Linked DNA regions of Homo sapiens: all the other regions are linked to region 2. Evidence: fine-mapped expression QTL. A gene starts in region 2. Each other region holds a variant in brackets. All regions are shown on one strand. Distances are from middle to middle.

The links.
Region 1: its variant is fine-mapped to the expression of LINGO2 in whole blood (TOPMed, PIP 0.98).
Region 3: its variant is fine-mapped to the expression of LINGO2 in whole blood (TOPMed, PIP above 0.99).

What each region holds. Positions count from the first base shown.
Region 1 is chr9:29,278,046-29,286,235 of GRCh38, forward strand. No RefSeq gene overlaps it. Among named protein-coding and RNA genes, the nearest start is that of LINGO2, 69 kb to the left of the region's middle. The variant C/T (reference allele first, on the strand shown) is at 4,239.
Region 2 is chr9:29,210,454-29,218,643 of GRCh38, forward strand. LINGO2 (leucine rich repeat and Ig domain containing 2) reads right to left here and starts at 3,148. Exons shown (of 7, transcript NM_001258282.3): 1 at 2,469-3,148. RefSeq lists a silencer at 1,739-1,788.
Region 3 is chr9:28,863,634-28,871,823 of GRCh38, forward strand. The region is part of intron 2 of LINGO2 (leucine rich repeat and Ig domain containing 2); the gene reads right to left. MIR876 (microRNA 876) reads right to left here and starts at 73; the gene lies at 1-73. The variant A/G (reference allele first, on the strand shown) is at 3,624.

The DNA of each region.
Region 1 (8,190 bases), 68 kb after region 2:
ATGGTATCTCATTGTGGTTTTTATTTGCATTTCTCTAATGATTAGTGATGCTGAGCTATGTATGTTGGCTGCTTGTATGTTTTCTTTTGAGAAGTGTTTATTCATGTCCTTTGTCCATTTTTAAAATGGGGTTATTTGTTTTTTGCTTGTTGATTTTTTTAAGTTCCCTATAGATTCTGGATATTAGGCCTTTGTCAGATACATAGTTTGCTAATATCTTCTCCCATTCTGTAGGTTTTTTGCCCTGTCTATAGTTTCTTTTGCTATGCAGAAGCTCTTTAGTTTAATTGGTCTCACTTGTCTATTTTTTTGTTGTTGCTGCAATTGCTTTTGAGGACTTAGTTGAAAATTCTTTGCCAATGCCAATGCTGAGAAGAGTATTTTCTAGGTTGTCTTTCAGGATTTTTATACTTTGAGGTCTTACATTTAAATATTTAATCCATTTTGAGTTTATTTTTGCATATGCTGAAAAGTAGGGGTCTAGCTTCAATCTTCTGCACGTGGTTAACCAGATATCCCAGTACTTTTTATTGAATAAGGATTATTTTCCCCATTGCTTGTTTTTGTCAGCCTTGTCAAAGATCACCTTGTAGGTGTGTGGCTTTATTTCTGAGTTTTCTATTCTGTTCCATTGGTCTATGTGTCTGTTTATTTTGTTTTTGCTTTTGTTTTAAACCAGTACCAGGCAGATTTTGTTACTGTGGCTTTATAATATAGTTTGAAGTTGGGTAATGTGATGCCTTTGGCTTTATTCTTTTTGCTTAGGATTGCTTTGGCTATTCAGGCTCTTTTTTGGTTACATATGAACTTTAGAATAGTTTTTTAAAATTTTTATGAAGATCGACATTGGTGGTTTGATAGGAATAGCACTGAATCTGAAAATTGCTTTGGGCAGTATGGCCATTTTTACAATATTGATTCTTCTTATCCATAATAAGCATGAAGTGTTTTTCCATTTGTCAGTGTTTTGTAGTTCTCCTTGTAGAGATCTTTCACCTCCTAGGTTAGCTGTATTCCTAGGTATTTCAATTTTTTGTGGCTATTGTATATAGGATTGTGTTCTTGATTTCACTCTCAGCCTGGTCGTTATTGGTATATGGAAATGCTACTGATTTTTGTACATTGGTTTTGTATCCTGAAACTTTACTAAAGTTGTTTATCAATTCTAGGAGCCTTTTGGTAGAGTCTTTAATATTTTCTAGGTATACAATCATATTGTCAGTGAAAAGAAATACTTTGACTGCTTCTCTTCTTATTTGGATGACTTTTATTTCTTTCTCTTGCCTGATTGTTCTGACTAGAACTTCCAGTACTACGTTGAATAGGAGTGGTAAGAGTGGGCATCCTTGTCTTGTTTCACTTCTCCAGGGGAATGGTTAGAGTTTTTGCCCATTCAATATGATGTTGGCTGTGGGTTTATCGTAGAAGGCTCTTATTATTTTTATTTTTTCAAGATAGGGTCTCACTCTGTCACCTAGACTGGAGTGCAGTATGATGGTCCCCACTAACCACAGCCTTGGCCTCCTGGGCTCCAGCGATCCTTCCACTTCAGCCTCCCAAGTAGCTGGGACTACAGGTGTGGACCATCACACCCAGCTAATTTTTGTATTTTTTGTATAGACAGTGTTTTGCCATGTTTCCTAGGCTGATCTTGAGCTCCTCAGCTCAAGCAATCTGCCCCCTCAACCTCCCAAAGTTTTGGGATTACAGGCGTGAGCAACCACACCCAGACTGCTCTTATTATTTTGAGGTATATTTATTTCATGCCTAGTCTGTTGAAAGTTTCTTATCATGAAGGGATATTGTACTTTATTAAAACCTTTTTCTGCATCTATTGAGAAGACCATATGATTTTGCTTTTGATTCTGGTTTATGTGGTGAATCATTAAATTGGTAAATAATGTAGTAAATCAATAAAATAAATGATAAATCAACATTTATTGATATGCGTATGTTGAATCAGCTTTGCATCCCAGGAATAAAGCCTACTTGATTGTGGTATATTAATTTTGATGTGCTGCTGGATTTGATTTGTTAGTATTTCGTTGAGGATTTTTGTGTCTATGTTCATGAGGGATAGTCCAGCCACTGTGGAAAGCAGTTTGTAGATTTCTCAAATAACTTAAAACAGAAACCCCATTCAACCCAGCATTCCCATTACTGGGTATGTACCCAGAAGAAAATAATTCTACCAAAAAGACACTTGTACTTGTATGTTCATCACTGCACTCATCGTAATAGCAAAGACATAGAATCAACCCAGGTGTCCATCAATGATGGAATGGGTAAAGAAAATGTTATACATATACACCATGGAATACTGTGTAGCCATAAAAAAAAATGAAATCGTGTTCTCTACAGCAACATGGATGGAGCTGGAGGTCATAATCCCAGGCAAATTAATACAGGAACAGAAAACCAAATATTTCATGTTTTCATTTATAAGTGGGAGCTAAACATTGAGTACACATGGACATAAATATGGGAACAAGAGACACTGTGGACTACTAGAGGGTGAAGCGGGGGCTGGGTTACAAAACTACCTATCAGGTACTGTGCTCAATACCTGGGAGATGGGATCTGTACTCCACACCTCAGCATCATGCAATAATCCCCATGTAACAAATCTGTACATACACCCTCTGTATCTAAAATAAAAGTTGAAACAGAAAGATAGAAATGTTGGAAATTTCCAGGAAATACTAGTTTATTGCCATCACTAAACTGAATAAGTTTATTATCCTAAAACTGGGGTATTCTTTTCCCCTCTAATGGTCCACCTAAGAGAGATACTGATTCCTATGACTCATAGTTATTTATACCCTTAATTAGCATTTTTTGCATGAGAACCAATTTATGTAAAATAAAACTATTTAAAGTGACATTTAACAAAATAGTTTTAAAATATATCTTTTAAAAAATGATAAATGATCATTTAAAAATATCTAAACACTACAATAGAATTAAAAAAAACACCAATACCAAGAGAGCGTATCATTTAACAGGAAACAAAAACATATTCAATTCTCTTTTACTTTACTAATTCCCAAAGGGAAAAACTAAATGTATACAACTCTAATAACTTTATTGTACAAAATACTTCTAATGGAAAAAAAAATTGTGTGTGTGTGTCTGTGTGTTTCATATTAGAAAATTAGCAAGAAGGAGGCAGCTTTCTAAATTCTTATACTGAAATTTAATTGAAGACCATATTGTGAGCTCCATTTGACTCATGGATCACAACTTGGTAACAGCTGATATAAACCTATAGCCTACACATCATATTATTTGTTCTTATTTCCAATTCTGCTTGTATGTTTAATTAAATAAGTTCCACTGCCAGTTAGGACTAGCAGCCTCAAGGTTTACCCTTTGATTTCAGTCAACTTAGTGATAGGTTTTTCCGTGGGAACAGTGCCCCTAGGATGCCTAGACACAGCCCACAGTCCCAATGAAGTCTGCAATTTTGTGCTACTGTGTACCTTGGAAACATATCTTTTAACCATCCTCTAGACCCTGGTTTTGCAACTTCAGAACTATTGACATTTCAGATCAGATCGTTTTGGGTCTGTGTTGAGGGGAGGGGTGTTTTGACAATCATTAAGCCATATTCCTGGCTTCTACCCACTAATTGCTAGTACCACAAGCCTCTGTTAGTGACAACCAAGAATGCCTCCAGTCACTGTTAAAAGTCTCTAAGGGGCAAAATTAACCCAAATTAAGAACCACTGTTCTCACCCTTAACTTTGTTGATTGATGATCCGAAGTTCTTACCTTTTTAAGCAATATATCAAATATTGTATATCTTTAAAATGTATGAAATTCCATTCTAACACATGGGGTTTAATTGTTTATTTGTTAATCCTTTGGATGGGTGCTTTGAGGAATGTACATGGTTGGGCTCATTGAAAATATAAAATTTCATTCTTAATAGTCATAACATTAAAGTTTAATGTGAAGAACATTTACCATGGTCCCTTTTGAAGGACTCTGAAGCATAAGGCATACTGAAAACACAACACTTAGCCAATCAAAAATCCTACCTCTTGAAGAACCAGACTCCTTAAGAAAATAATGTTCTATCTTCACCCTAAGGAAATATAACTCGAAATTTTGTCCTAAGAATGTGGGCAGCAAACGGTAACTTACAATTATTGAAAGATCAAGCCCTAGCTTTTTCTCTATTGGAGTTTCTGTTTAAAGGAGAATGTGTAAGGCCTTTAAAATATTTAAGAGGT[C/T]TCTAAAAGAAGGAAGTGGAGAGAAACAAATCATGACTATACAACCCTCAGGCTGATTAAGTCAGAGCTGAGGAAGCATTTTATTTCCTCTCTGAAGTCCTAATCTTTTTCTCCTAATTGTATTTTCTTAGGCTGATATGCTTTAAATCTCAGATCACCTAAGTCCTGATTTACTAATTGTCTATTCCATTTTTTCAATCACCCTTTCTTCTCTAGTGTATCACTTCTGACAATCTCTCCTTTTCCTACTCATTTAACCTCAGAAGTGTGATGTAGATCCAGGATTCTATTAGAGAATGAGGCAAAATATTACTAAACTAACCAACCAAATATATGTACTATGTATTTTTTACTGCTCTAAATATAGTTATTAGCAGAATATCTCATTTTTAAATCAGGAGTTATGCTATATATTTAAAACAAAAATATGAACAAATATGAGACTTATCGCTTACTGAATTCATGATTTTGAGCAATTCCTTTATTTCTCTGAACTTCAGTTGCTTTTTTGGTCAGTGGGATAATTAGGATAAATGAGAAAAAGTAAGAACTTTTCAAGGTTATGCATACTCATTTTGCATATAATAAATGCAAAAACATCAGTCCTTAGTAGGTATTCAAGAAGAAAGTCTCCCATTCCCAGTATCTTTTACAATGAAAATAATTTATGATTTCATAAACCTCTGCTCTGGCTTTTGACTGAAAATTACTTACTTCTAATTTCAGGGAAAGTATATTGAAGCCAGTACCAGCACTTGGATTACCAAAGCAAAAACTGACTGCTAAAACTGTCAAGTGACAGTAAGTGATTCAACCTTCTTTTTACTGGATTGTTTTCTGGTTAAGTTAACACACATTTCAAAACTTAGCCAGAATCGCTGCCTTTTGGCTTTGACATAGAACTTAAAGTGATGCTATTTCAAGGGAAACTGCAATGCAAAGGATGTTATGTTGCCTTTACTTTAAGGTTCATTCACTCTGACTTTTACATGACTTGTTAGACATTAGCCTCCCTGTTTTGAAAAGGCCAGGTACATCAGGGTTAGTGCAGAGGGTGAACACTATTAGTTTGCACTTTATCACTGTCATCCAGCTGCTGAATGGCTGCATTTTACATTATACAGGTAATGAAAGATGTCAGAGCTATTTCAGGGAAACGGTTCCTTCACAAGTCAAAACTCAACAGAGGACTCATGGTTTCTGATTTTCAGTAAGAAAAAGTTTTTCTGTCTAAGTCCCTCAAATAGCCTGCATTCAATTTTCAATGAGAATATAGTAATAATTGTCTGAGCGCATATTGTTAAACAATTAATGAACTCTATGACAGAATTGGTTCAGAATTTATTATTTTAAAATGTAAGTAAATATAAGATAAACTAAAACTTTGCTTCAAATATTTGCTTTAAGCTGGATTTTAATCAAAACTAAATATCATAATGAGATGCACATTGTGCTGTTATTCATTCTTTTTGTTAACTCAAATGACTTTGAAAACTTAAATAACAGCATGTTCGCTCAACACTGTGCTGATCTCACTTGCTCCCATCTAAGCACAGCCCAACAAGCCGCCATACCCAAACTCTGACAGTTTATTGGGGCATTAAGCAAGGATTTTATTTTACTTTATTACATCTTATCACACTTTTCATTTTTTATTCCACTATGGTAGGCTCATCTTCCTCTCACACTGCCAGAGGCTACCGATCTGTAATACAGCTCAGCTTCAAACCCACTCAAAAGAAGAAAGATCAAATGAGTGAAAATGGAAGCAGACCATAACCATTGCTTCCATTCAAACTCATAAAATTTCTGCACCCGTGGGGGATTTCTTAAGATCCTAAACACAGTCTTCAGGGAAGAACATGAATTATATGTAAGGAGATTTGGTTTCCAATTCTGACCCTGATGTTTACTAGCTGAAAACACTAATATTTCTGGTATCAATATTTCCATATTTACACATTAATAATTGGACTAGATAATATTAGGTCACTTATAGCTTAAAATATTATTCATCAAACAATAAGAGACTGCTTACTTTTTAAGTAAATAATTGTGTACATGCTCTTTGTTCTCAGTGAAATACAAGCAGATTTTTAAGCTCTTGGAATGTTTTGGCAGTAATATCACTTTATAAGTAAATATTTGCTTTTGTGATGGTTAATTTTATGTGTCAACTTGACTGGAGCATGATTGTTCCCAAATATCTGGCTAAACATTATTTCTGGATGTGTCTGAGAGTGTCTCTGGATGAAATTAGCATTTGATGGGGTAGACTGAGTAAGGCAGATTGCTATCCCCAATGCTGGTGGGCATTGTACAATCCTTTGAGGGGCTGAATAGAATACAAGGGTGGAGGACCGCAGAGTTCACTCTCTTTGCCTGACTTATTGAACTGGGACATTGGTCTCTCTTGTCCTTGGACTGGGACTGACACCATCAGCATTCCTGGTTCTCAGGCCTTTGGACTTGGACTTGAAATACACCAACTTTCCTGGGTCTCCAGCTTATGGACAGCAGATTATGGGGCTCCTCAGCCACCGTAATTATGTGAGGCAATTCCTTATAATAAATCTCTTACTAGATATACAGTTGACCATTGAACAATGTGGGAGTTAGGTGTGCTGACTGCTCCCCATGCAGTCAATAATTCATGCACAAATTTTTACTCCCTAAAAGCATAATTACTAATATCCTACTATTTACTGGAAGCCTTACTCATAACAAAACAGTTGATTAGCACATATTTTTATGTTATATGTATTATATACAGTATTCTTACAAAAAAGTGAGCTAGAGAAAAAAGTTATGAAGAAAATTATAAGGAAGAGAAAATATATTTGTTGTTCATTAAATGGAAGTGGATCTTCATAGATGTCTTCATCCTCATTGTCTTTAAATTCACTAGGCTGAGGAGGAGAAAGAAGAGGAGGGGTTGGCTCTGCTGTCTCAGGGGTGGCAGAGGTGGCAGAGGTGGGGGGTGGGGCATGAAAGAGAAGGCAAGAGAGGTGGGTATACTTGGTGTAACTTTTATTGAAAAAAATTCACATATAAGAAAACCCAGGTAGTGCAACCCCATGTTGTACAAGGAACAATTGCATCTATGTATATATGTGTATGTGTATAAATATAGATACCGATATTAAGAAAGAGATATATCAATAGGATATATATGTGTGTATATAGACATACATAGTATATATCTAGAAAGAGATATATCCAATCAGATACATACTGTTAGTTCTGTGTCTCTGGAGAACCCTGACTATATATTTTTTTTCCAAAAAGTGGACTTTTCAAAACTAATGGCAAATTCTTAATTCCTTATATTGGATTATACATTTTTCATGTCATTCAAAACAATTTTGCCTATATTACCTTGTTTTTTATTTATTTTTTCCATTTTTTAAGAAATTTGGGACTCACATGATATAACTGTTAAAAATCAACATCTTATTATGACATATAGTATATGTGCATAAATATTACTTTGCAGTTTAATAATAGATGTAATGAGAACCCTTTTATTGTTACTATCACACAGATGAAGTACTAGACCATTCCCGGAGGTCTTCCTCTGTCCCTTTTCTGTGCCAATTATCAGTTAATTTCCTCACACTTTCAATCAAACCCACCCTGTTTTATCTGCTCTGCCACAAGGAAGTTTTAAGCATTTTTTTCTTTGCTGCAAGCACAATATTAAGCGATGTCAATAGAGGGCACTGGAAGAACTTCGTGGGAGGAAGGGACTTCTGATTCCAAAGGCCAAGAAGCCTTTGGCTTCTTGCTCCTACTGTGTGGTTTGTAAATATGTGCCACCCTGATGATGAGAGGATTCTGAACATGGTGGTTCCTGGACTCCCTCTTTGCATTTATGAGCCAATGTTGGCCTTGGCCTTCCTGTACTCCAGAGGGGTTGTCCAGTGATTGTGGGCTAACTTTGGCTTGGAAA
Region 2 (8,190 bases):
TATATTCAGATGAGTATCACTTTTTCACACCATAAAAATTTCTAAAATACTGTATTTTAAGAACACAAACGATCCTTTTTGGGACTTCATCAAGATATATATTCTTGCCTTCCACACAGAGCATCATCCACTATAATACATGAATGACAAACTTTATATAAATCTTCCCTGAGATAATGCTATGTGTTATTCAGCAATGAAAAACATCAATAAATTGTCCTGCTTCCATTCCCACTACAGTAAAATTATATAAAAATATTAACATATATGTACCTTAATCAAAAATAATAGATGCCTTACATAACTAAACCACTTCTGCCATCAATAGGCAATCCATTCCATTTAAATTCTTAAGGTGAAATACCTGGCAGATCTCAAAACATTTTACTGGTTTTGAACAGGAAGTACATTTTTTTTTCTTCCTCACACTCCAACTGTATTGGGAGTAACGCATGCTACTGGGTGATGGTGACAGAACCCTAAAGAACATCTCCTTCTTTTAAAATGTTAACCACTGCTTCTAATTTCTGAAAAATATTTTTTGCCCTTTCAGTATGTGGCCCAATATTTTCACCAATGATGGATCTCAGCTTCTATTCAGTATTCCTGGAATATTCCACACCCGATGGTAATTTTTGGTCTTCCTTTAGTATTATTCTAAATATTCGTCTTTGTTAAGAGCCACCTTTCCAAGACCCTGAAACTGCATTACTGAGTGTAAAATGACCACATATGGTATGCACAAACACAGCACAGCACGCTGAAAAATACATACATTACCGGCTGACAGACACGGGGGTAATCACACCAAGCAAACACAATAAGCACTCTTTCATTTATTTATTTATCTATTGCTTAGACACACTCATCAAACATATTCAGTGCCCACTGAGCCCAAGGCAGTACACAGCACAGATAATATCTGTTAGGTGGCTTCAGCAAACTGGATTATGTCAAAGTGTGAAATGTGAAGTGAATCTGACTTCATCAAATAAACTGAACTCCAAGGCCATTTCCCAGCACTCACTCCCCCACCTCAAACACACAAGCTTAACTTCGCCCTCCTTCCTCTTCTGATGCTCAGACCATGACTTCCTTCTCATCCTTCTCTTCTCTTCTCTTCTCTTCTCTCTCTCTCTCTCCCTCCCTCCCTCCAAGTATTTCAGCAGCTTTCCTCAGTTCTCTGAGCCAATCCCTCGGAAAAGGAAATCAGCAAAATGCTGAATGGGGAGACTTCACCAGCAGGTGAAGAGGAAAAGAAGAGGGTGTGGTACTCGTTTTCTCCACCACACCCCATCCCTGGAGTCTTGCACTCCAGTCTACTGCGGCTCAAAGCGGGCACAGCAGGTCCCCTAGCTCACCTCGGAGCAGCCTGGCCCAGACCAACCACCCAGCGTTCTCCGCAAAAAACTTCCCTTAAAGCAGCCAAATATTCAAGGGAGGCGGGGGAAATTGGGCATTAGTTCGAATACACATACAACAGAGCACCACGGAGCAACACTGAAAGGCACCTTTTTTAGATACAGACCCTATAGACTCTCTCTCACCCTTCACTCCCTCCCACCCTGAGTATCTGACTGAGAATTTACAGAGAACCAAGAGGCGAAAGGAGAGTGGAGGAGAAAGAGGGCATTACCTCCCGGGGCTGCCCTCAGGGTGCGGGTCAGGATCTCATCCCCGAAGTGGCTCCAGTTCAAGGCACAGCTTTCCAGAGCTCAGCCGGGTTCGGACCTGCGTCCCCGCGGCGCGGTGCGGAGCTCGGAAGCGCGCCGGGACTGCCGCTCACGTCCCCCGCCCCTGCCGCGCGGGCTCCGCCACCCCGCGAGCACGCTGGCTCTCCGCGCTCACCCCGCCGCCTCCTGGCGCCCCCACACCCACCCGCTCCGCGGCGCCCGCTGGGAGCCTCTAGCGGAGGCGAAGGGAACAGCAGGCGACCTGCGGCGCCCAGGTTCCGACGCCGGTTGCAGGGAGCCGGCCAAGCGGCAGCGTGGGCTTCGCGCGCCCCCGAGTCCGCAGGCCGGGTGCCGCCGCCGCCCCCACCTGCCCACCTGCGCCAGGCTCACCTGCCACCGCGTCCTAGTTGCGTTCACCGGTGCCCACAGCTCTCTATGGCAATTGGGGGTGGGTCTGCGGTGCTAATAAAAATTTAAAAAAAAAACCTCTCTGGTAAAAAAACGAAAACCCAAAACCCAAATCCACGCTGTATATCAACCTCCACAGAGAACCCAGTCCGAAATCGTTTTCCAATAGGTTTCAGAAAGTGTGAGGACAGGACACTCCTCTGGCTTCCTGCCTCGCAGCTGGGCAGCGCCGCACCGGCTACTCCCTGACTTGCCAGGCGGGTCGTGCGATCGCGTAGCGACGCCCGGAGAGATCCTCCTAACTTGACTTAACCCCCACCCCATCCCCAACATCTATTTTAAGTTATTGTCTCTGGCAATTCAAGCAGCAGCTTTGCTGCCTCTTACCTTGAGGCGCTGTTAATTCTCCTTCGTGTCCTTAAAATCCCAAGCCAAGGATGCGACGCACACAAGTCCAGGGGCTTTTCCTGGACTTCCCCCTCCTCAGCTCTGAAGGCTCCTCCTTTCCAAGGGATCAGGAGGGGATGGCGGTTCAAAAGCCCTCACCATAGAGGCGCCTCCAAGCCTTCGTACCAGTGGAAATGGAGACCGGGACCACCTTCCCGGCACCCGGAAGCCTCCCAGCCCCTCCTGGGCCAACTTGGCTGCCTATTCAGTTTTCTTCCGTAACCCCACAGACACGTCAGTCAATTCCCTGGCATCAGGCAGGATATTCTCAGTTGCGGCCGCTCCTCTTGCTTTCTCTCGATAATGCCCCTCCCCCCTTTCTCCCCTTAATTTGGAAAAATTTCTACTCCCTGCCCGAATTAGGTGGGGATGAGGCGGAAAGGTGTAAGAAGAGCCACTCCAAGGCACAGCTTCGGAACACCGTCTCCCTGGGCTGCTGCAGCGCGAAGGTGTCTACGCTGGGGAAACTTTCAGGGGAGGCAGCGCCGGTGCGGGGCTGGGCGGGCGGCGGGCGGCGGCGCCAGGTGAGGAGGCTTTGAGGAGGCGGCTGCAAGGCGGGACGCAGGATAGCCGGCTGGGGCTTGGCAGCCGGGCTCAGAGCTCGGGCTGCGCACACACACAGGCGCGCACACCCGCGCGCGCGCAGCTACACACGCACGCCCAGCCCTGCGCCCGCGGCCCCCGGCCAGTGGCGAGCGAAAAGTCGGGAGTCCTGAGGAGGGGTAGGGGTTCCAAGGATGCTGATGACAGAAAGAGTCAATCAATCCTCACTAGTTAGCGGATTGCCGGCAGGCAGTTCCTCGCCGCACGCCGTTAAGTCCGTTGGGCCACCTCTCCGTTCTCTGCCCTGTCTGGCATTTCAACTCCCTAGCTCTTTTCTTGAAGCCAGTTACACCCCCTCGACACCCAGCGAGAGGCCACCAGACTAAAGATGAGCCCCGTTCCCATCGCCACCCTCCAGGGGCCACCTCCGCCCCTTCTGTAGTGGAGAATTGAAGTGGCTGCAGCAGCTCTCCTGGGAGCTGAGGGGCTCCCCGAGGTCCTTCGAATAGAGGAGCCTACACATCGCTTCGTGAACATAATCCCCTCGCATCCCGTCTTTACCTGCCCACTCCCTTCGTAACATTTCCCCCAAGGAGCTCCCGAAAGTCGCTTAGATGTTTTGAAAATGAATTTCTTAGGGAATTGTAGTGCCTAGCTTTTGGAACTGGGTTAATTTAGGTGCTACGCTTATATTGTAAACTGGACGGTAGCAGGTGAACGGCTCAGCTGGAGAAAGGGGAGGGATTAGGAGTCTGGAGACCCAACCCCTTTAGCAGCCATTTCCAAGGTTTTGCACCAGGAGTAGCTGTCCGGGTCTCTGGCTAGCTCCTGTCCCAACTTCTTTTTCTTCCCTCGACGGTCGGGAGGGATCACTGGGTGCTACACCGCTGGGGCGTCCCAGGCAGGAGAGACTTCGCTCTCAGAAGCGCCCCCGTGTCATCCACAACTCCCACGAAAGGAGCTTCCCAAGAGGAGTTTGTTTTACCCGGAATGGGCTGCAGGAATTAATTGCTTACAGAGAGTAAACTTTTGCCCGTTGTTTTTTTGTTTTTTGTGCTTTTTTTAACCAAAGCTTGCATTTGTGCTCCGCGTAGTTTCTATTGCAACAGAGCGCTACTCTGCCTTTTCAACTGTGAGACAGAGGATTGCTGAGGATTTCTGCCCTCTGGGGCTTCGCGAATATCTATGGCTTCGGACCTGCTAGCGGAAAACGCAAAGTTGCCCAGCTTGGAGATGGCACCAGGTTCCTTTGCTCTGGCGCTGGATGCTCCGCTCCGCCACCCACCGCCGCCGTCTCCATCGAGAATCTCCTCAAAATCAAGGGAGTTCTTGACTGTCCCTCTCCAAATTGGAAGGCGGTTGACTTTGCCGGGAACCGAGTTCCTGAGCGGCAAACGTGGAGTCGCAGAGCGCAGAAGTGAAGATTTAATACAAAAGATGAAACTTGTAGGATGACCTCTAGCAGCGCTACTCACAGCTCTGAAATCGATCCAGAGCATTCCACAGTGAGCGTTGCGGCTCCCAGGGGCTCCGGACCGGTAACTTCAGGCGCAAGTCTGAATTTCAGGGATGAACCTGCTTTGGATTCTGTTTGAGCCGACTCAGTGCAGAGGCAGTGACAGGGGCTGTGGGTTTAGGGGTGATGGATCCATGAAGGCTGCCACTTGGAGCGAGCAGACAGTTGGCGATACCCTCCCACTAACTTGCTCCGCTGCTCCGGGCTGTTCACAGACAGACCCACGCGTAAGGATTTAGAGTGTGTATGTCCAACGCCCAGACTTAACTTCTGGTGCAATTAAGGGAAGAGCTTGAAGCTAACCCGCGCAGCTTGCCTGAAGAAGTGAATAATGAAATCGGTGATGAGGTGCTAAGGAATAAAAAGAGGCATTTTGTTTGCGTGTGTATTAGTTTGCCAGGATTGAGTTTTTAGGTTTGATGTCCTAAAATGTATCTTCGACAGTGACTCTTTTGCAGCCTTTCAAGAGGAGGATGTTCGGCAGTATTTTGGAACCTGGTATGAATCTATACATTGTCTGCGTGCCGCAATATTTGATGCCTCTTCGAGTTCTAATTCTTATTCCTAATTAATAAATGACTGTTCCTGATAATGAAGTGGGAATAAGAATTATAATAAACTATTTCCAACAAAAGGCCATCTTTAACTTATGATTTCTGATTGTATAAGCCTATCAATTACCAATAAAATATTCTGCAGACTATTAGGCATGAATTGCAGAGCTGTAATGAAGAGACTCACTTGGTTCAAGAAAATTCAGAATTTAGAGCGACTCCTCTCCAAAAAGGTTGTGACTTCAAATTCCTTTCTTGGTTGCTGTTGGTATGCAGGCCACTGTCTGCAACTGAAGTTTCTGTTTAAAGTAAACATAGGTTATTTACATATTCATTAACTTTAATACGTGAAGGGTGCCTTACAGTGGTAGGAAATGTTGTGGAAAGTCTTGTACCAGCCATGGCGAAGTCTTTTTACTTGCTTTGAGTTTTTGATGTATGCGATGTGTATGCAGTAGTGGTAATCCATAGCATAATATTCTTGACATTTAAGCACCCTCAAAAAAAATAATAAAAACCTGTAGATTTATGGATCCTGTTCAAAAAATGGAAGAGGATAAGGATCACCCTTTTCCCCCTCGCCTTTTACATTTTGCTTTTATGGGGGAAATTATTTAACAAACAAGGAGAGCAAACCTCAGGATCAGAGGATGTACCCCATTCCCGCTACCCTTAGGTCTATCTATGGAATTGAAAAGAAACTATTGAGACTCAAAGATACTGTCAGATCCAAGAATCTGATTTCACCACCAAATTAAAATAACTACAGCATTATTCCAGTGTTGTCTATGTATTTATGTTTTCTGATAATTGAATTTGAAATATATGATATCTCTTCCAATGGAAACATCTTGATCCTTTTCCCTCCTTAAGATCATTTCTCTACAAACTGCCATTTTCAGAACACCTTTTACTTCTCTAGAGCATAGCATTCAGTCTATTGGTGTACTGTCTTTTCATAGATAAAAGCTATTCTTTCTTTACTGGTATGCCTTTGCTACTGTACTGTGAGCTCTGAGAGCACGGATCTTGTCATTTACATTGTTGTTCCCCAGAATCTATACAGAATCTAGTACACAATAAAATAGATGTATATGATGATGATGATGATGATGAAAGCGACCATGTATTGAGTAATGACTTAATGACTATGTAATGTGATTTATGTACATTATATCAGTTGATCCTGTTTACAACCTGCTTACCTAAATTTTATGTCCTCAAATTACAGGGAGATTGAGGCTTATGCAAATTTACCTAAGGTGACAAATCTGTTTTGTCACAATTAAGTATGGAACCTACACAGTATCTTTCTGACTCTGAAGCCTGCACTATTCATCATTTTGCTCTGTTCAAATAGCCAGGTCCCCACATTTTCAATTATTCAAGGCTAAAAGGAATTTATATGTTGTTAATGCTAAAAAGAGGCAAATTTAAAAATGAGTTCCTTACCTCTCATGCAATCGAGTCAATATCTATTTGAGTATCAAAACACAGGACCAGTTTACTTCTCTTATTGGGTTAAAATAGGAGAGTGTCTTCTTGGCATTATTTTCATGGGAATGCCAAATGCTGAGTTATGGGTTTCCTTTCAGAGAGGGGAGTCAGGCCATTGGGAATTTTATGGATATAGAAAACTTTTTATTGTTTACTTCCATGTTGATACTCTTATGTAAAACAGAGGAGGCTATTATAAAATCTCAGTTGTGTAAGATGAATAAATTCTAGAGATCTATTGTACAATAATGTGCCTATAATTAACCATACTGTATTATACACTTAAAAATGTATTAAGAGGACAGATCTCATGTTGGCTAATTGCCACAATTTTAAAACTAATAAAAATAAAAGCCTCAGAACACAGACAACACTGAATACAGAATGACATAGGAACATGCCATAGAAATGTGTTATAGTTGTCAATTTCAACAGCTCATATTATAAAACATCTTTTATACCTTGGATCATTACAGTACAAATACAAAATATCCATATCATGGAAGATTAAGCTGCTATGTAAAATAATGAGGAAATTCTCCTTAATTGGTATAAAAAGGTCTCCATGATATTTTTAGGTGAAAATTGCAAGGTGAAGCAAGGTGTTGTCTCCAAAAATTAATAAAATTGGTTGGGGTCATGGTGTAAGTGGGCAGATGGTATCAAAGGTAGAGGTTAGACTTTTTATGTTCTTTTGATTTTGGAACCGTGTGTAAGTTTTACCTTATAAAATAAAAGAGTGCCTTTGAGGGGTTGCATGGAAAGAAAAGTATAACAGATGTATCTCCGCCTTTTACTTAAAAAAGATGTTTGTTGCTGTTGTTGTTGTTGTTTTTAAAAAGGGTAGGTGAAAGTTGTGAAATAACCTGGCCTGCAATACATTTGCTCATTTACTCCTGCCAGGGAGAGACCTTGAGGGAAAGAAGCAAAAAGGGGTTTCTTAGTTCAGACTACTGTAACAAAATACCACCGCATGGGTAGCTTAAATAGTAGGAATGTATTTCTCACAGTTCTGGAGTTCTGTGAGAAACATTTTTCACAGTTCTTGGAAGGCCAAGATTAAGATGCTAGCCAATTTGGTTCTTGGTGATGGCTCTTTTCCTAGCCTGCATACAGCTGCCTTCTAACTATGTCCTCACATGGCCTTTTCTCAGTGTGTGTTGGGGGGAAGAGAGAAAAAGAAACAGAGACATTTCAGCCACAGTTTATATAGCAACTAATCCTATCATGAAGGTCCCACTCACATGACCTGTCTAACCCTAATTACCTCCCAAAGGTCTCATCTCTACACACCACCACATTAGATGTTAGAGCTTCAGCACATGAATTTGGGGTGGGAAGAAGGTACAACGTTTAGTCCATAACAAGTGAGCAGGTCTAATCTCCTTGTCAATTCTACCTCCCCTGGGTAAATAGACTAATGGTATTTGCTAGAAGGAAGAGGGTTGTCTTTGGGCCCTTAGTAGGATATCTGACTAAGGATTACCTATAATAGATAGAACCAGAATTTATAAGGGATGGCTTCCTGGAAAATGGCATATAGTGTTTGCAG
Region 3 (8,190 bases), 350 kb before region 2:
TATGAATTACTTTGTAAACCACCACCACATTAGCTTAGATATGGTGATTCACAAAGAAATCCACAGCACTTCACAGTTTGTGTAAAGCCTGGTACCTATGAACCAACAAAAACAGTACCCTTTGGCCACCAAAAGTTGAGGAAGTATTTCCATCTAGTTCACAATCAATTGAAGAATATGCTCAGTTTTGCACCACCCTCTTTTAGCTGAAACACACAAGAAACACTGAACATTTATTTTAAGTAAATAAAACTTAAAAATAAATGCATGCTTTCTATATTATATACCAGTAAATTTCATTTAAAAGAATTCCTAATACAATAACTAGCATGACATTATGCAGGATGAAAAAACAGGGTTCTGCTCATCAAAATAAAAGGGCATGGTTATTAATATAGATGTCAGGAGTAGGGAGTAGAATAAATAATAAAACTATATGTAATTCTCACATCCATATCACAGTATATAAGTGTTGCTGGGATAATTTGTTCTAAAGATATCCTCAGTTACTTAGCTTCCCACTTTATACTCATATAATCTCATATCCTATGACACAAGCTTACCAATGTTACAAATCTGCCCTTGTACCCCTGAACTTAAAATAAAAGTTCAAAGGCAATCATTAAATGAGTTTAACCTGAGTGTTTTTTCCTCTGATATTTGTCCAAGTAAGTATTTTTTCATATGACTGCTGAAGTCCAAGAATGTTTATAAAACTAAATTCTATATTATACATATTAGGTTCAACTCTGAAAGAAAACCACACCAATAAAAAATGAAAAACAAACAATAAAGTTACTCTCCTTTGCAAAATAACCAGAATCCCACCTTTTAACTTTTATCTAAAGAGCAAAAAGAAAGGTTTCATTTATAATTAATGAAAAGAATCTATAAATCTTCCCAGCCTAGTAAGCATAATATCAATCAAGTAATTCATGCTTTTGAAAATTTCAACATTTTTCAAAGTAACCATCAAATGTCAACATTAATTAAAAGTTTGCTTTATAGAAGCTCATGAACATAAGAGTCCTAGGCAGTTCACCACTGTCAGTGTAGGTCACTGCTCAGGAATACCCTACTCACCTCCACCAACCACACATATAACAACCAAGCCAAACTTGCTAAGTATCTGAATAATTAAAAATATTTAAATAAAAAATTTGTAGAAAATATGTATGTATGAAAAAAAAATATTTGTTTTGCGCTTATCATGTGCCAGGCATAGTCTTGGTTAGATGCTGGGGATATAAAAACTCCAGGTTTCAAGAAATACAAAGGAGAAAACAAGAATTTGAAAAAAGCAGTAATAGGTGTTATGAAAAGTTTCCATATAGGGCTAATGGAGACATGGAGAGGCCACTTAATTCAGTGCTAAGAGCGTTGATTACAGATGTCTTCTCTAAGGGAATACCATATATAAGAGAACTGAAAGAGTAGCAGGAATTAGCAATGAGAAGGGTGGGGTAAGTGTTCTAAGCAGAAGAGAACACATATACCACGGCCTATCCAAAGAAATAACGTGATTTTTATTTTATTTTTTGGTATACTATAGCTGAAAAGGAAAACTGCTGCTACAGTTAGAGTAGGTGAACACAAGTGAGCATCACCAGATCAGAGGCAGCAGGGACAGAAAAATTTGAAGTAAGAGAACTCCAGAATAATGAGGCAACCTGTCTGAAATATGGGCAGAGTAAAGGAGCAGTTATACAAAGGTCCTCCAGCTCTTCATCAAGTGTCACACTCAATCCCAAACTGGCCCAGGCAAAACCTCTTGAAGAATCAGGCCAGTTTCCCCAGTGAAATTCAGGCATACTAGTTGGGTGGAATACATTTAGAGTTTGACATGGGTTTAAAAACAAATCACCCTGGCCGGGTGTGGTGGTTCACGTCTGTAATCCCAGCACTTTGAGAGGCCGAGGCGGGAGGATCATGAGGTCAGGAGATCGAGACCATCCTGGCTAACATGGAGAAACACCGTCTCTACTAGAAAAATACAAGAAATTGGCCGGGCATAGTGGCTTGCGCCTGTAGTCCCAGCTACTCGGGAGGATGAGACAGGAGAATGTCTTTAACCCGGGAGGCAGAGGTTGCAGTGAGCCAAGATCGTGCCACTGCGCTCCAGCCTGGGTGACAGGGAGAGGCTCTGTCTCAAAAAACAAAACAAAACAAAGAAACAAAAAACAATCATCTCAACTTAAAGAGATCTTAAGTGGCTCTTTGAATAACCATTCCAATCCAAATGTAAAATTAAGTTGATCCAATAATAATAGTGAAATAATCCAGGGTGTGTTTTTACAATATTTTATACCTCTTGTTGCTATTCTTTCACTAAACAAGACAAATATGCTCTCCATATGTAGCACTCTATGTTAGTCGGGTACTTGGCTTTGCTTGGTTTGTGAATCTGAATGCAAGAAAACTTCATGCAAGTCCCTCTTTAGACAGCATTCAGCTAATTTAGAAAATTTTCCCACATTTTCTGTCAAATATGCTCTCTATTTTATATAAGTAGATAAATGATATGCACTGAGAATGAAATGTTCTGGTTGAACTAATTTTCCGGTGCACTGATTATTAGAAAACACCATTTTTTCAAACTCTTGCACTATTTAACTTCAAAAATAGGCAGTTATTTTATAATGAATTACCATATTGAATGCTTTATTGTATTTTTTTAAGGTTATCCAGAACCCCTGTGTCATTTTCTACTTGTGGTCAACATCTCTGTTAATAACCGTGCATCAGTTATTCCATCTATGCTTGTGATTTGAAAAATAAGGTCCCTAACCCCAAAGGAATTCAGAGTACCACGGGGCATACAAAGTGATTCTGAATCTGCAATTAGGAACTATAGCATAAACCCTATAATCAATGCTATGAAAGGAATATTTTCCAAGTTCTAAGGCTGCAGAGAGGAGGAAGGCCAACACCCAGGGCACCCAGGGCAGAGAAGAAGGGTGGTGTGAATTAGACTTAAGTGCTACACAATATGGTACATTGCAGGCAGTTACAGGATATGAAGTAGATTGATATTTTTGCTTTTGCCAAAAAATTCTGAGTGCTGTTAGTGTGAAAATCACTAATGTGAGCATGAATTCATATAATTAACTTTATTCTCTTACTCTTCTATCACCGGGGGGTAAATTCCAGCTAATGGAGAATTCTTTTTAATTGGGCTCCAACTAGGCATCAGGTTTATTAGAGGACAGACGTCGTTGGTGGGGTCTTAAAGTGAGTAACTTAGTTCTGATTCAAAAGTATAAACAGAAATTTATTCTGTACTATAGTTTATTTTCTAGATTCATCCTTATTTCTTAGAATCTTGTATCTTACATTTTTCAACCCACACAAGCAAGAAAACTGAAATAAAACAAATAAGGTAGAGATAATATCAAAATACAGGCCATAATATCAGCTCTATTTAAAATAACTACTGCTGGTGACAGGAAGTAAAACAGCTGCAGAACTGACAGAGGAATCTGCAGTTAAGGGCTAAATCACACCACTAATATGACAAATGCTGCTGGTAAACTGAGTGGGAAGGCAAGTTCAGAAGGAAGCCTGCATCCTTTCCTGGTGATGAAAGCTAAAAAGAATGAAAATAGTAGAGCAAGTAAAATAAT[A/G]CAAAATAAAAATAGAACAGGAAATGAAAAATGCATATACAGTAAATACAATCCTCCTACTGGTTATTTTTTTCTCCCTTTTCTCATAAAATCTCTCTTTTGCCCTGAAATATTGAAAATAAACAATGCAAGTCAGGGTATAAAAGCAAGTGATTGCTAACAATAATAAGCAAGTGCTAGCCATAGCTGAGCTAAATATGTGGCAGGCTCTATGTCTTTCAAGTAAAGAAAAAAAAAAAAAGAAGACAAACTCTTACCCCTACTGCACCAATGTAAACATTTGCCATAAATTACAGAGAATCACAAAGTTATTGGAATTTTAACTATTTTTTAAAAAGAAAAACTTTCATTATCAAGCACCCATAAAGCATGTGTATTACTTCATTTATTTCTGATTTCTGACAACAGACAACACATAATCCCTGCCTTCAACACGTGGCAGTTGAGGCACACAAAAAAGTGTAATCTGTCCAAGGTTAAACAAATGTTTAAATAACAGAGCTAGATTTGTCTAAAAGCTCATGTTTTGTCTTTGCCCCATAACGTCCCAGTATGCAACATTACCTATAGTGTTTGTGAAATATATAGAGAAAAGAAAATTAGGTAAAAACATAAAGTTTGAATTATAAATTTTACACAGAATCAAATATACATTTGCCCTACAATGAAACAATTCTTTTACCCAAAAATAATAAAACATATTAATAATACTTAAACATTTTGTAAAAGCATCCAGTTTACTTAAGACAAAGTTTTCAGGATTTTATGTAAAATATCCATTTATACAAAAATAGATAATATCTCAATTACAAATCTTTCCTTTCTTACTCATTATAGGTGATCCCTAGAGGCTTGGAAGAATGTTGTTAACCTAGTGTGTGTCGTTAACTTTGCTTACACTTAATAAAGTCTCCTGCCTTCAGAAGTATACTATGACTTATTTGCCTTCAGCTGAATATGCCTTTCTGTGAATAAGTCCTCATTGATGACATTTGATTTTATACTCCAGGAAGTATTTTTCAGTCATTGAAGGGTTTAGTTCACTGTCAAAGATCATTTGTCTAAGCAGTAATATCTAGAGATCCAGTTTATAAAGTGGACCTCTACATTTACTCAGAGACTACATAGAATAGTGAGTGAGTGAGTGAGCATGTGTGTGTGTCTGCATGCATGTGGTTATGTGTGTATGTTTTCTCTTTTGTTCTCCCTGCTTCAAGATTGATGCCTTTCGAAAGTGGCATCATGGGTAATTTTCTGTCATCTGAGAGATAACTCATCCTACTTCAAATCTGTCCACATAATAGTCCAGTGTTTTGTAGGTAAATTTAATTGTTTAGTTATTTGAAGAGAATAAATGAGTGCCCCTTTGGAAAGGGAATGAGAGAACAGAAAACAAATAAGCATTTTAAAAACATGTAAACTTTCAGTGCTTATTATTTCTCTCATTAATGAAAATCTTATATTTGGAACAGCAGTTCAGCTGAGTAACTGCAAACATAATTTGGTTCCTGTGGGTTGAGTTTGTTCCAAACCTCAAAGATTAAATTTTGCAACTGAAAATTAAGCTTAGCACTGTGGTTTTGCAGATGAAGATAGAAAGTAGTGGAATATATTATTTAAGCCCCCAACTCACAACATTTGCAATATTTAAGTGACTATATACACAATTATCATTTACTGATATATTTGATGGAATTTATATCTCGCTGATTTGATAATATAACAAATTTCCAGGCCTGCTTTTAGCTCAGGACTATTTGTTAAATATGGGATAAAAATAAATGATATACTTATTAAATACATATTTATCACTGCCAAAGATCAGGCATAGTTAGAACACTGAATTCAAATTTAGTTTAAATTTGATAAACATCTAATTATCCATTCATCAAAGATGTTTTGAGCCCCTACTATGAGGGAAAAACTAGGCTAGACATTGAAGAATCAAAGGGAATACTTAATGTTCCATCCTTCAGGGAGCTCAGAGTCATCAGGTAAACTGACAAATCTGCAAATATTTCCAGTACAGCCATAACTGTAATGACGGACAAGTGTAGGATCCTACAGAAGAAGTGGCTAATCAGAATTAGACAATAAGAAAGGTCTTTTCAAAAGAGACGAAGCCTGACTTCTATAGAGGGTTTAAAAGTATTTGACCAGGTGACCAGAGGATGAACAAGGAGTGGGGGGAGGGGTCACAGAAAGAAGGCTATTCCAGATAAAGAAAACAGTACTTGCGAAATTCAAGAGACAATGTGTCTGAATTAGGAACTACATGTTAAATTATGTATGACAGAGAAATAGCAAGCAGGAAGAAAAAAGATGAAAATTAGCTAAAAGTCCAGTGGTTTGAACTGTGTGGTAGACAGAGCCTGAGGAAGAAGACACAAGATGCATGAGAAATGGCTAGTCCCTGTCTTCAAGGAGCCCACAGATCAAGAGGTGATCAATAGGTCCAAAATCAATAGGTGATCAATAGGTCAAAAATCAATAGGTGATTTTGGACAACAATGTCTCCTTCAACACTGCAACTCCCACTGTTGCACCTACTACAAATAATAAACATAGCACCCTTTTCCCAATTTCCCACCAAGATTCAGTACCCTATGGGCTCGTTTTACACCCTACCCTGCCTTTCGATTCTTCCCTCCCCTTACATAAAAATGTCTTTAAAGGAAAGGACACATCAGTCAATGTTCAAAGCCAACGTTATTATACCTGATAAATAAAAGTATTAACAGTAAAGCTAAAAACACTTCAGAATCAGAAAAAAAAAACCCATAACATGCATTTATATTGAGTCCCTCCTTCACTCTTTGAAGGATTTGTTACTTTATTTTCCCATTTGTAGACACATGGCCAGTTCATTGAAATGGTACACAATTTTTACTCATTTTCTCTAAACCATACCTGATATTTGTAATCCTCTGCTTAAATACCTCATTTTCGAGGCACTGCTTTTTCATAAAATCCACAAAGTTTATTACGATCTGACAACAATCGAACTGCACAACATTATTTTTTTCCATTCCACCCCATGTGTGTCATCTTCCAGTCCACCTGTACTTCCCACTCTAACCTAAACATATAACTTCATGATTGTGAACATAAAATGACTTTATGTACTTCTTGCATTTCTCCTCCTAGAAAATTCTTGTTCAATCTTAGACACAGCTCCAATATAACGTCCACTGTGAAACATTCTCTGACTCCCCATACAGAGGTTATAGCTTCTATCAGGACCCCACAGACCAATGTTCCTACTGCTAGTATAGTATTTTCTATTCATGTGTATTGGTTTATACGTTTATCTGTCTTCCAATTCTTTGACCTTCTGAGGTCATAAACTGTGCCTTAGTCATCTGGAACAGAAAAATACCTGATGTGGAGAAAATATTTGCAGCTTATATACCGTACTTGGTGTCTATAGCAATCATAAGTAAAAGCATAAAAAGAAGCAACAAAAAAGGACATAAAACCATAGAAAAGTAAACTAATTATTTGAACTTTTAAATCGTACTAAAGAAATATCAACAAGTATGGGAAAATGCTTCACTTAATTTATATTTTAAAAAAGCAAATGAAAACAGCATCAAGATATTTATTCCATCAGATTGGCAATAATTAAAACATGTATCAGCCAAAGGCGACAGAAAATAGAAATTTTGTTTCATTAATAATAGTGTAAGTTGCCATGTTTTTTTGTACTACATAGTAGGAAATGTCAAAATTTCAAAATGAACACACAATTTTATCTAAAAATTCTCCTTCTAGACATCTACAGAAATGTTTACATTTGAGTAAAATATATTGACAGATGATGATTGTGGCAACTTTTAATGAATTAAAAGTGGGAACCAATTTAAATATTTATAAATAAGGAAATTGTTAAATAAATTATAATTCAATATTGCTATGTAGATACTAAAGGTATATAATAATGAGGTAAGCCTAAATTATATTTAAATAATATATAAATACTTTAAAATACAGCAAATCTATATGAAAATGTGGCCATAATAATCTGCTAATTGAAAATGAAATTAAACAATAGAACAATATTCATAATATAAGCTCATTGAAAATATATATGCATATAGAAAACACTCTAGAACACACATACCAACTTCTTTAAAATGTTTATTTTTAGGAAATAGGAATGGAAAGTGGGAGGGAAAGCAATGGTGGCAGTAGAAAGGAGATTTCAACATTTTACTTCATATACTCTGTGTTACTACCTTAGTCATATGACAATATATTCAGCATTAAAATATAGAAAATAAGAAAATGAACTATATATTTTATGTAATATATAAAAATATTAAGCTTAGGAACACTGTCAGCTATACTATAGTGTAACCAAATGATGCTTACATTTGCATCTTCAAACCTCTGAGGTTTTTATCTTTGCAGCACATAAGATGACAAGTAGAAGGAGCAATCTACTGAAAACACTACATAAGGAGTGAAATAAGCATGAAAGAATGAGAGACGTTGGTTCAAATCCCAGTTCTGATGCATTAACTGGGTGAACTTTATATGTTGGAGCCTTACCTTCTTAAATATA